Homo sapiens: one gene and its partners. The protein of the gene in region 1 purifies or fractionates together with the protein of each later gene. This does not show direct contact. Each region holds a gene or a part of one and is shown on either strand. Other genes may lie near its edges. The genes, in order: DEFB104A, PITRM1 and RMND1.

Region 1 (3,752 bases):
GCAGGCTTCAGAGAGAACAGGCTGTAAAATGTTTCTTATCACACTTAAAGTCTGTGTTGATGTTCATGATGGAAAGTGTAATGAGGCATGTCCAACCCCCACTTCCTTTCATGGCCTGAAGCAGTCTTTCAGATTAAATTTTAAGAGCCCTGGCTGAGGAGGGAGTCCATTTAGATGGTTGGGGAGGGGGCTTAGAATTTTATTTTTGGTTGACAGCACCCATCCCCAGTCCCTGTGGGTATCTGAGGGGCTGACAGTGTGTGACAGCCAAACTTACCCAAAGCAGGGGTGGCAGGAGAAGAGGCAGGCAGCGCATGTCATTCACCCTCACCCACTTCTGCCACTTCCCTCCCTAATCCTCTTCCTGCTAATGGTCTTTCTCAGAATTCAACTGCAGAGGACAGTCTGACCCAGCCCTCTGCAGCCAAGTGTGGATAATGGCAGCCAGCTCTGCGGTGCATTCTTCGGGATCTGGAGGGATCCCTGACCCAGGCTTTCCATCCCAAGTTCTTTGTCTTGGGATCAAAGGTTGAAGAAAACCTGTTCTTTGATAAATTGCTATCATATTTTAACAGACCTGGAACATGCCCATAGCAGAATTTCACAGAAGTGTCTTTGGGAAATGACACGGGAAGAAAGAAAAAGGAAGAGTTAACCTAAACAGGTACCCTCTGAAAAAAAATCATTAACCCATCTGAATCACAGTGGAGGCACAGCCCGGAAGGGCAAAAAGATGGGTGCTGGGTGTCTGTCAAAGCCCCATAAAATTGACTGAGCAGCTTGGAAGAGAAGATCCGATGGCTTCTACGAGTCAAAACAATTGGTTTCGTCCCAGCACTGCTAGACTTGTTAAGCAACTCTAAAAATCTTATTTTCTCTCACTGTACCATAGAGAATGCTGCTCAGCTTGTAAAAGAAGGGAATTAGATTAGGTGCTCTCTCATATCCATTGCAAATATATTAAGAAATACATGCTTCTGGGGACATAGATTAACGTAGGAGTCAGAAGATTGCTGACATCTCAGTCTAAAATTTCCTGAGCAGAGTTCAAAGGCACCTGCTATTTGTGTTGTCAGTAAATTACGTTCTTGCCTACTGAAATCACTGCATCCCCTTTAACCCTAATCATCTGACTTGATATGAAAAGTTGCAAAATTTAGGAGGATGAGTAGGCGCCCTTTTCTGTGCAGAGTAAAGCTGTTCAGAAGGAGGAGGATGGGGGAAGGCATCTTATTCTACAAAATCAACAATGAATAATTGCTGTTGCCCTGCAATGGAACAAGCATGGCTAGTGAGTCCTCATTGCTGAGGATTCCATGAGGAATTGTTACCGTGTGTGGCCAGGGTGCCAAGGACATCTAGGACTCCTGATCCCTACGTTTCTTTTTTCCTCCTTGAGCTAGTAAGCCTCGTGGCTGTAAGGTGCATACAAGGACTGCCACATACTGCATTTTACTAATGGACCCAATGAAAGCAAAGAGAAAAAAGGCTGAGATTGAAGAAGGTTACTCCATCCTTCAGGATTTATTTTCTAAATCAAATGTTTTTCTTCTCCCCCTGTCATCCCCAGCAACTGTGTATATTTCCAGCTGAGAGTCCCTTTTTACCTGGAAGATCTTGATAGAGTAGAAGAGAAATGGCTAATAGCAGCACAAGTCTCTGCATAATGCTGGGGCTGCTGGCGAGAAGCAGACGCAAGTCGGAGGGAATCACCCCAGGCAGGAGCAGGGCAGGTGTATTTATGGGCAGAGGCTGCTCTTGATTACTGAGGCTTATCAAAATGCAGCGTTCCTTGGTGAACACTCACCAAGGCACAGTGTGGGGGAGGTGTTGGGGCTACAGAAATGCCAGCTGGGCAGTGTTGAGGGTGGGGAGAGAGTATTACCATAGGTAAAGTCCAAGTCACTTCACTTGCTTCCCTGAATCGTTTCTGAAGCAAGAACTGGATTAGATGATCTCTAAGATACCTTCCAGCCTTGACATTCCTCAATTCTGGTGAGAGGACTTTCTCTTCCATTTCAGTACATTTCAGTCAGGAGATTCTTGTTGAAAATTGTGATGTGGCTAATGGAATTGAAGTCCATAGCCCCCAAGACCTCTCTGAAGTAAACATTGAAACAAACATACAATGTCAAGGAGAAGAATGGCATGGAGCGTGGGGAGGTCATAAATGCGTGAAAGGTCCCAGGACATTTCTGTGATAGAAAGAGTGTAGGATGAGGATGACAAGTGACAACAAGGAATACTTGATGGCGGGCATTGTCCAAGGGTGGGATTGTAACCACAGAGCATCAGGCTCACTTAGGGCTTAGGTGAAAAGGAGGACAAGAATGAGAAGAGAGGTTAAAAGGAGACAATTCATGAGAATGCTGTATTTCTAACAATGGCTTCAAATAAAACATAACCTTCCAGAGAGCATACGCCTGGCCCTCAACCCGGGGTGTATGCTCCCTGGATTTAACCCCAACCCCACCCGAGGCAAAACATATAGAGCATATGCTCCTGGCATTTGCCCTTAGGGAAAACACCAGATAATTTTATTTTAAGAAAAAAAAAATACTTCATTTCTCTAAAATGAAGTACTTTAGAGAAAGTAAAAACGTCCAATCTTGAAAGTTGACATTCTCGAATAAGCTCCCCTTATTCTAGAACACAGATTAGACAAAGCCTGACAGACATACGTTGCTTGCACATCCTAAGCAAAATCTAGCAGTCAGTGTGTCTTCCCCAGAGTTCTCACTTAGGGGAGAATGTGATGGAAAACCAGGTCTCCTTTCACAGTAACGAAATAGAATAGAACATCAGAAATCATAAACTATGCCAGTTTGGGTGCTCCATGAAGCATTTATCAACAGGAATTAGAAAGGAAATAAATTTATTGGGAAATGCCTGTGAAAGATAAAGGGGAGCCAGGCGCAGTGGCTCACACCTGTAAATCTCAGCACTTGGGGAGGCTGAGCGAGGGAGGAGGATCATGTGAGCTCAGGGGTTTGAGTCCATCATGGACGGCATAGAGAGACCCCGACTCTACACAAAAAGAAAATTAGCCAGGGATGGTGGTGTGTCCCTGTAGTCCCAGCTACTTGGGAGGCTGAGGCAGGGGGGTCTCTTGAGCCCGGAAGTTCGAGGTTGCAGTAAGCTATGATGGCACTACTGCACTCCAGTGTAGTAGGCAATACAGCAAAACCTTGTCTCTGAAAAAAATAAAATAAAATAAAAATTCAAAACAAAAAGATGAAGGGGAGAGGGAGCAAGATTGAGTAGGGAAAGTCTTCAGAACATGATGTCAATTAACACCTGTGAAAAGGTTTGGAGTCGGGGGAGCCTCAGACTACAGTGCAGAAAATTTCAGCATTGCCAGTGGGGAACCCCAGGGCAAAGACTGTCCTACACCAGCAGACATGGCCCAGCTCTAGTCCACATTGTGCTCATTCACTGCCTGGAAGCAGCCAGGGCAAGAGTGGTAGCCATGGGAATCCTGCCGCAGGTTACAAACGTGCAGCACGTAGAGGCCGTCGGATACTCTCCTCACAGCAGACACACAGCAAGCACAAATGTGCAGGATCCATGGGACCCTCCTAGCCTGCCACATGTCAGGCTTTAGTAATTTTTGATGATGAGCTTCAAGGGAAAAACATCAGCCAATATTCAAGGTCATCTATGTGACCAGGATTCTGAAGAAAACTGAAAAATTCTGATGATAATAAATATTCAGCAATTCTTCAAAAAAAAAAAAAAAGTAATTCATATAC
Region 2 (3,752 bases), on another chromosome or scaffold:
GACTCACTGCCCTGATCTGTTTAGTCAGGTTTTGCCATCAAATAGCTTGCTCTAAACGTCCGCAGAACCTTTCAGTTTTCTGAGCCATTCGGGTTTCAGAATGATAAAGAAGCAATTGTGGACCTGTACTTACTTGGGTCTGTATTAAAATAGATTCATTTGGTTTTTGTTTTGTTATTTTGCCTAAACCTTTTGCATTGTTTCTATTTAGCATGGTAACTGAAAATGACACGCTTCATGTATTTGGCCAGCTGTTGGCTTTGTGCTATGCTTGATGTTATAGCAAACGTGAAAGACAAACAGCTTACTGTCTAGAAAGACTGCTGCGGCTGTGACCGGAGGCACATGGTGGACGCCACGCGGAGGGCCAAGGACAAGGGCAGGAGGAGGAGTGGGAGCTGCTGCTGCTGGGGGCAGAGGGAAGAGCTCCTGGAGAGGGTGGTGTGAGAACGTGGCTGCCTTCGGTCAGGGCTCCAGCAAGGGAGCCAGGGCAGTGACTAGGGTGCGCCAGACAAGGTCCAGGCATGGGACTCATGAAAAGACTTGGAGCGTTTGTGAAATCCTGCAAAGGCCAGGCAAAGACACTTGGGTTTATGGTACAGGTTACTGTTAATAAGGGCCTCACCCACAGCGGTAGATTCTCCTCCTTTATTTCTCAAATTTTATAGAAACGTATTTACTTTTGAGACTGGGACTCACCCTGTCGCCCAGGCTGGAGTGTGGTGGTATGATCTTGGCTCACTGCAGCCTCGAACTCCTGGGCTCAAGCGATCCTCTTGCCAAGTAGCTGGGACAAGGTGCCACCACGCCTGGCTAATTGTGTGTGTGTGTGTGTGTGTGTGTGTGTGTGTGTGTGTGTGTGTGTGTGTAGATGGAAACTTTGTTGCCTAGACTGGTCTCAAACTCCTGGGTTCAAGCAATCCTTTTGCTTGTGTATTAGTCTAGTCTCACACTGCTATGAAGAAATACCCAAGACTGGGTAATTTATAAAGTATGAGCTAAAAAGTGAAGAGGTTTAATTGACTCACAGTTCTGCATGGCTGGGGAGGCCTCAGGAAACACAATCGTGGTGGAAGGCATCTCTTCACAGGGCGGCAGGGGAGAGAATGAGGATCAAGTGAAGGGGGAAGCCCCTTATAAAACCGTCAGCTCTCATGAGAACGTGCTCACTGTCACGAGAATAACATGGAGGAAACCGCCCTCTTGATTCAATTACCTCCCACCAGGTCCCTCCCACAACATGTGGGGATTATGGAAACTACAATTCAAGATGAGATTTGGGTGGGGACACAGCCAAACCATATCACCTTGGCCTTCCAAAGTGCTGGGATTATAGGTGTGAGCCACTGTGTCCAGCCATAGAAACTTACGATAAGTCATGATTCTTGTTTGAGAAATAGCTACCATGAAAGCTATTATTATTAAAGCTATATATTATTAGAAAGCAAACATCTCACTGTATCTGCTGACTTCAAAAGCATTGATCATCTGTTACAAAGTACAGTGAGCTTGGAAACAGAAGTAATTTCGCGGCGGTAGATGATGCAGGTCATAGTGGTCTGCTTTATGCATGACTGTTGCGTGGCAGGCTCCCTAGATTGGGCTGAGGAGACCCGAGGTCTGACCTTGGCCAGCGACTTACTGTGTGCGCTTGGCCAGGTGACTCATGGCACCTGGCAGGAGGGGGTGGTGAGTGGTGTGGTGATCACAGGGACGTGGTGTGTGATTGAGGGAGAGGGCCGGCTGGCATGACTGGAAGAGAAGACAGTTTCTTTCATACCGAGGAGTATGGTCACTTACCAGGAGGCTTACCTAAAGTAGGAGATGACCTTCCACGCCGCCCCAGGAGTGGGGAGTCTTTCGTCTGTCTTGTGGGCATTTCTATCCTCCCGGCCCCTCCAGCTGTTCTGGAAGCCACAGCTTTGTGCTTCTAGCTACCACCGAGAACCCATCCTAAACTAAGAGAAGCAAAGGCTGATCCTAGAGCCTCTCCCTGCTGTCGCAGGCTAGCCCACTCTAGCATTTCCCCTCCTTGCAGGCCCGTTCTGCGCACTACAGGAGATGATATGCACAGAAACAGACACACAGCCAACGTTGGAAGGGGTGCTGTGTTACTGAGGCGCAGCACACAAAAGCAGGAGACACTCAGCAGACATTGGAAGGGGCGCTGTGTTACTGAGGCACAGCACACAAAAGCAGGAGACACTCAGCAGACATTGGAAAGGGCGCTCTGTTACTTAGGTGCAGCATGGTACCATGGGAAGGGCAGACACCAGGGTGAATCCTGGCTCTGTGATTTAGGCAGCTTATTTCATCACCCTGAGCCTCGGTTTTTTCGTCTGTAAATGAGTATGAGAATACCTCCCTCACAGGATTATATGTGACATGATTAGAAAATGCCTAGCCAAAAAAAGAATAAAAAATTTAAAAAATAAAAAAATCTAAAATACCTAGCCAGTAGTAAGCGCGTGCGCTCTCGCGCTCGCTCGCTCGCTCGCTCTCTCTCTCTTTCTATACACACACACACATATTCTCATCTGCCTTTTTTAGGTCTGTCTTTCCTTGTTTGTAGGATAAGGGACCTGGACAAGATGGTTCTCTTCTCTCCAGCTCTGAAATACTGCCTTCCCGGCATCATCTAATTTCAGGCAGAAAAGCCAGTTTTCTCAGTGTGTCGAACATAACCATTTCAAAGGCCATTTTGTCTAAGTTTAACTGGTCGTGTTTTTCTTGTTAACTCAGGTGACATCTGTTCCCGAGCTGTTCCTGACTGCAGTGAAGCTCACCCATGATGACACAGGAGCCAGGTATTTACACCTGGCCAGAGAAGACACGAATAATCTGTTCAGGTGTGTGGTGCATTGTAAGAACATGGTCTTGAATGTTTTTATTTAAATCAGGAATGTCCATTCTTTTGGCTTCCCTGTGCCACAATGGAAGAAGAACAACTGTCTTAGGCCACGCATAAAATACACTAACACTAAGGACAGCTGATGAGCTAAAAATAATAAATAAAGGACCCCTCAATGTTTTAAGAAAGTGTATGAATTTGTGTTGGGCTGCATTTCAAGCCATCCTGAGCATGCGGGCTGCAGGCTGCGGGTTGGACAAGCTTGATTTAAAACATGGCTATACATTACGTGGTTTAAAATATCATCTCACTAGTATTTTTATTGACAGAGCATCTTGAAAAATAAGGAAAAGTTTACACTGACTTATAATCTCATCAAAATACAATTTTACAGTCTGAGTCAATGATTTACATTATAGTTGGAAAACCCTGTGCTGGAGGATTGTGGTGTCAGAATGATGATTTCTAGTAGCCTGAGGTGATGATGCATCTGGGAACTGTGTCCGCAGCACTAAGCTGAACCTTTTGCGTTCTGGTCATTCTCCTTCCCTAGCGTGCAGTTCCGTACTACTCCCATGGACAGTACTGGTGTTCCTCACATTCTTGAGCATACCGTCCTTTGTGGGTCTCAGAAATATCCGTGCAGAGACCCTTTCTTCAAAATGTTGAACCGGTCCCTCTCCACGTTCATGAACGCCTTCACAGGTAAGACCAGCATCCTGAACAGAAACTGCTTTTGGGTTTGCCAGGCACACCCACTGGAATTCAGTTAGTTTCTGAGAAGGAATGAGGGGAGTGGGCAATTCATGTTCTAGAAAAATTTTTACCTCTCTCTAGTTGAAGGACATTAGAAATTTAATCCTTCAGGAAAGCCACATGGTAGCGAGATTGTAAAAACTAG
Region 3 (3,752 bases), on another chromosome or scaffold:
ACGTTTATGGGAACTGTAGCTGTTTTCATTTCATTGATTATAAGCAGGGAGAACTCTTACCCATTAGAAGTAGTTGGGCTGTGTTAAGACTGTACTGAAAGAAATCACGCATGTGCAAAAGAGATCACGATTCATCTACATTAAACCCACATTAAGGAGCACAGTAGGTGTTCTTTGAAGGTAGAAAGACATATTCCTGAATTTGGTTAATGGGAATTCTCTGTAAAAATATATCACTGCATCATAATGCTAAATAGGCTTAATTGCTACAGAAAAGTTTCTTTGAATCTGAGACACCAAGATGCCACTGGAGAGAAAAACTGCTGCCAGTTAAACTATGACAATACTTTTTTTATCAGAGGATTAAAATTTTACACTTACTGAAATATCTTTTAATCTTAGCTGGATATAAATTATATCACATTCCCTCTTGGGCATATATGAAAAGGAAAGCATAAGAAAATAAATTATTTAAGGCAAAGACAAGTAAGTCTCAAGTGCCACCTGTCAGACACCATTAATTTTAAGATGCCTCGAGATGTTAAAATGGGAATAACTATGTCTAAAAACTGATGAATCATTTTAAATAAGTATCTGGAAAGGTTTTCAGCTTTTATTATTCTTGTAGTTGTCCCAGGATTTACGGAATGAAACATCCCGGATGTTGGTGTTTTTCTCACAGGCAGCATTGTCCAGTTTATCCCTTCTAGCATGTGGAATGAGTTACCAGAGCTCACTGCAAATGTTCACCTAAGACTTGTTTTTCCATATTCTCCTTAGATGCTCTGCCTGGAGAGAAGTGATACAGTGTTTCATTGTCTGTGTATCTCTCATAGCTCAGGACCTATAGTTCAGGGTACCAACAAAACTTAAAAACCCATCCATCAGGAGCATCCTGCAGCATATCTGAAGCCTCAAATTCTCTGAGAAGTAGGGTAGAGAGATTCTTCTCTCCTGTTCTCTTGGTCATGCAAGCAGAAATTGATGTAGTGAATTATAATATCCAAACTGAATAGTTAGGACTAAATATACGTAGGTTTGTGAATAGTTTCTATAAAGGCTTACTTTTACTATCCTGTTTCCTTACCTGTACAATAAAAATGCTTATTTGTTAATATAAGGAATGTGATACATCTGTGAAAATAAACATGGCAGATAATATTAGATTAAAAAACTAAATCTAAATTTATATAGGGTATGATCCCATTTGTGTAAGCAAATAAAAATATTCATGTTTATCTTTATATGCATACACATGTACATGTGTTTGCTTGCACACACATGCATGTATGAATACAGAAAGATCTGGAAGTACACAGCAAAGTGTCTCTACAGGCCTGTCCTTGGGGAGAATAAAGGATTTAAGTAGTGTGGTAGCATAAGAGAGCCTACCATTTTTCTGAATCCTTCTCTAGGATATTTTCCTTTTTTTTTTAATCGTGAACAGGTATGTATGTGTTACTTTTTTTTTTTTTTTTTTTAAACAGGGTCTTGCTTGTCACCCAGACTAGAGTGCAGTGGCATGATCATAGCTCACCAAAGCCTTGATCTCCTGGGCTCAGGGATTCCTCCTGCCTCACCCTCCTGGGTAGCTGGGACCACAGGAGTGCTCCACCACACCCAGCTAATTTTAAAAATAATTTGTAGAGACAGGGTCTCAAACCCTTGCTCAAGCAATCCTCCTCCCTAGGCCTCCCAAAGTGCTGGGATTACAGGTGTGAGCCACCACATCAGTTTATGTGTACTTTCATAACTTAGATTTTTATTTAGTTAAACATCTAAGTGTAAGGCCAGGCACGGTGGCTCACACCTGTAATGCCAGCACTTTGGGAGGCTGAGACAGGTGGATTGCTTGAGGCTGGGAGCTCGAGACCAGCCTGGCTAACATGATGAAACCCCATCTCTACCAAAAATACAAAAATTAGCCAGGAATGGTGGTGTGCGCCTGTAATCCCAGCTTCTTGGGAGGCTGAGGCATGAGAATTGGTTGAACCCAGGAGGCGAAGGTTGCAGTGGAGCCAGGATCATGCCACTGCACTCCAGCCTGGGCGACAGAGCAAGATTCTGTCTCAAAAAAGAAAAAGGCTGGGCACGGTGGCTCACATCTGTAATCCCAACACTTTGGGAGGCCGAGGCCAGTGGATCATCTGAGGTCAGGAGTTCAAGACCAGCCTGACCAACATGGAGAAACCCCATCTTTACTAAAAATACAAAATTAGCCGGGCGTGGTGGCACATGCCTGTAATCCTAGCTACTCGGGAGGCTGAGGCAGGAGAATTGCTTGAACCCAAGAGGTGGAGGTTGTGGTGAGCCAAGATCGCGCCAATACACTCCAGCCTGGGCAACAAGAACAAAACTCTGTCTCAGAAAAAAAAGTAAGCACAGACTTCTTATATTAAAATGTAGAAATTAAGAGAGAGAGTGTGTATGTTTATGCTTGCTTGTCTAGTGTTTGCATAAACACTGGAAGGATACAGCGGAAACTAGAAGGGATTACTGATAGGGAAAGATACAGATAAGAATAAGAGTTAAGATTTATCAATTTTTACCTGTTTATATCTTGATCTGCTCAGGAGGCTGAGGCAGGAAGATCACTTGAGCCCAGGAGTTTGAGGCTGCGGTAAGCTATGATTGTGTCACTGCACCCCAAACTGGGTGACATATGAAGACATTATCTCTAAAAAAATTTTTTAAATAAAAAACAAAAAAGTGTGGACATATTAAATTTTTTTTTTATTTGAGATGGGGTCTCACTATGTTGCCTAGGCTGGAGTACAGTGTCACAGTCTTGGCTCACTGCAGCCTCTGCCTCCGAGGTTCACATGATCCTCCCACCTCAGCCTCCCAAGTAGCTGGGACTACAGGCATACACCACCACACCTGGCTAGTTCTTGTATTTTTTGTAGAGATAGGGTTTCGCTGTGCTGTCCAGGTTGGTCTTGAACTCACAGACTCGAGCAATCTGCCCGCCTTGGCCTTCCAAAGTGCTGGGATTACAGGCATGAACCACCATGCCTGGCCCTAAAATTTTTAATAAAAAAAGTTTAGGCTGGGAATGGTGGCTCACACCTGTAATCCCAGCACTTTGGGAGGCTGAGGTAGGCAGATCACGTGAGGTCAGGAGTTCGAGACCAGCCTGGCCAACTTGGTAAAACCCTTTACTAAAAATACAAAAAATTAGCCAGGTGTGATGGTAGGCACCTGTAATCCCAGCTACTTGGGAGGCTGAGGCAGGAGAATTGCTTAAATCTGGGAGGCAGAGGTTGCAGTGAGCTGAGATCATGCCATTGTACTCCAGCCTGGGTGACAAGAGTGACTCTGTCTCAAAAAAAAAAAAAAAATTGAAAACAAAATGAGTTTTTTTCTGTGTACTTCATAAATAATGTTGGTATTAAAGATTGAATTAATTTGGTTCAGAAGTTTGAAACTCATTTGTAAATTTTATTTACATGTTTGTTGGCAGTATTTTGCAAAGGTCAGCATTAACAAATGTTTTCAGCCACATGCAATGCCACATGCCTGTAGTTCCAGCTACATGGGAGGCTGAGGCAGGAGAACAGCTTGAGCCCAGGAGTTCAGTTTGCAGTGAGTTGTGATCACACCACTGCACTCCATCCCGGGTAACATAGCAAGACCCTCTCTCTTACCAAAAAAAAAAAAGTTTTCATAAAGCACTATGTAAATATTAAATACAATAGAAACAATGATTTTTAATTCAAGATAAATAAAAAGTTATAATTTTCCTTTTTAAA

What was found.
Region 2: the proteins of DEFB104A (region 1) and PITRM1 purify together in Homo sapiens (affinity purification with mass spectrometry, with the first as the bait; 2 studies listed by BioGRID). This does not show direct contact.
Region 3: the proteins of DEFB104A (region 1) and RMND1 purify together in Homo sapiens (affinity purification with mass spectrometry, with the first as the bait; 2 studies listed by BioGRID). This does not show direct contact.

Annotation. Positions count from the first base shown.
Region 1 is NC_000008.11:7,834,398-7,838,149, reverse strand, and holds the start of DEFB104A (beta-defensin 104 precursor), read right to left. Parts: upstream 1,715-3,752; 5' UTR 1,666-1,714; coding exon 1,608-1,665; intron 1-1,607. UniProt on the Homo sapiens protein: Has antimicrobial activity. Synergistic effects with lysozyme and DEFB103.
Region 2 is NC_000010.11:3,166,033-3,169,784, reverse strand, and holds part of PITRM1 (presequence protease, mitochondrial isoform 2 precursor), read left to right. Parts: intron 1-2,742; coding exon 2,743-2,849; intron 2,850-3,404; coding exon 3,405-3,556; intron 3,557-3,752. UniProt on the Homo sapiens protein: Metalloendopeptidase of the mitochondrial matrix that functions in peptide cleavage and degradation rather than in protein processing. Has an ATP-independent activity. Specifically cleaves peptides in the range of 5 to 65 residues.
Region 3 is NC_000006.12:151,417,401-151,421,152, reverse strand, and holds part of RMND1 (required for meiotic nuclear division protein 1 homolog), read left to right. Parts: intron 1-3,752. UniProt on the Homo sapiens protein: Required for mitochondrial translation, possibly by coordinating the assembly or maintenance of the mitochondrial ribosome.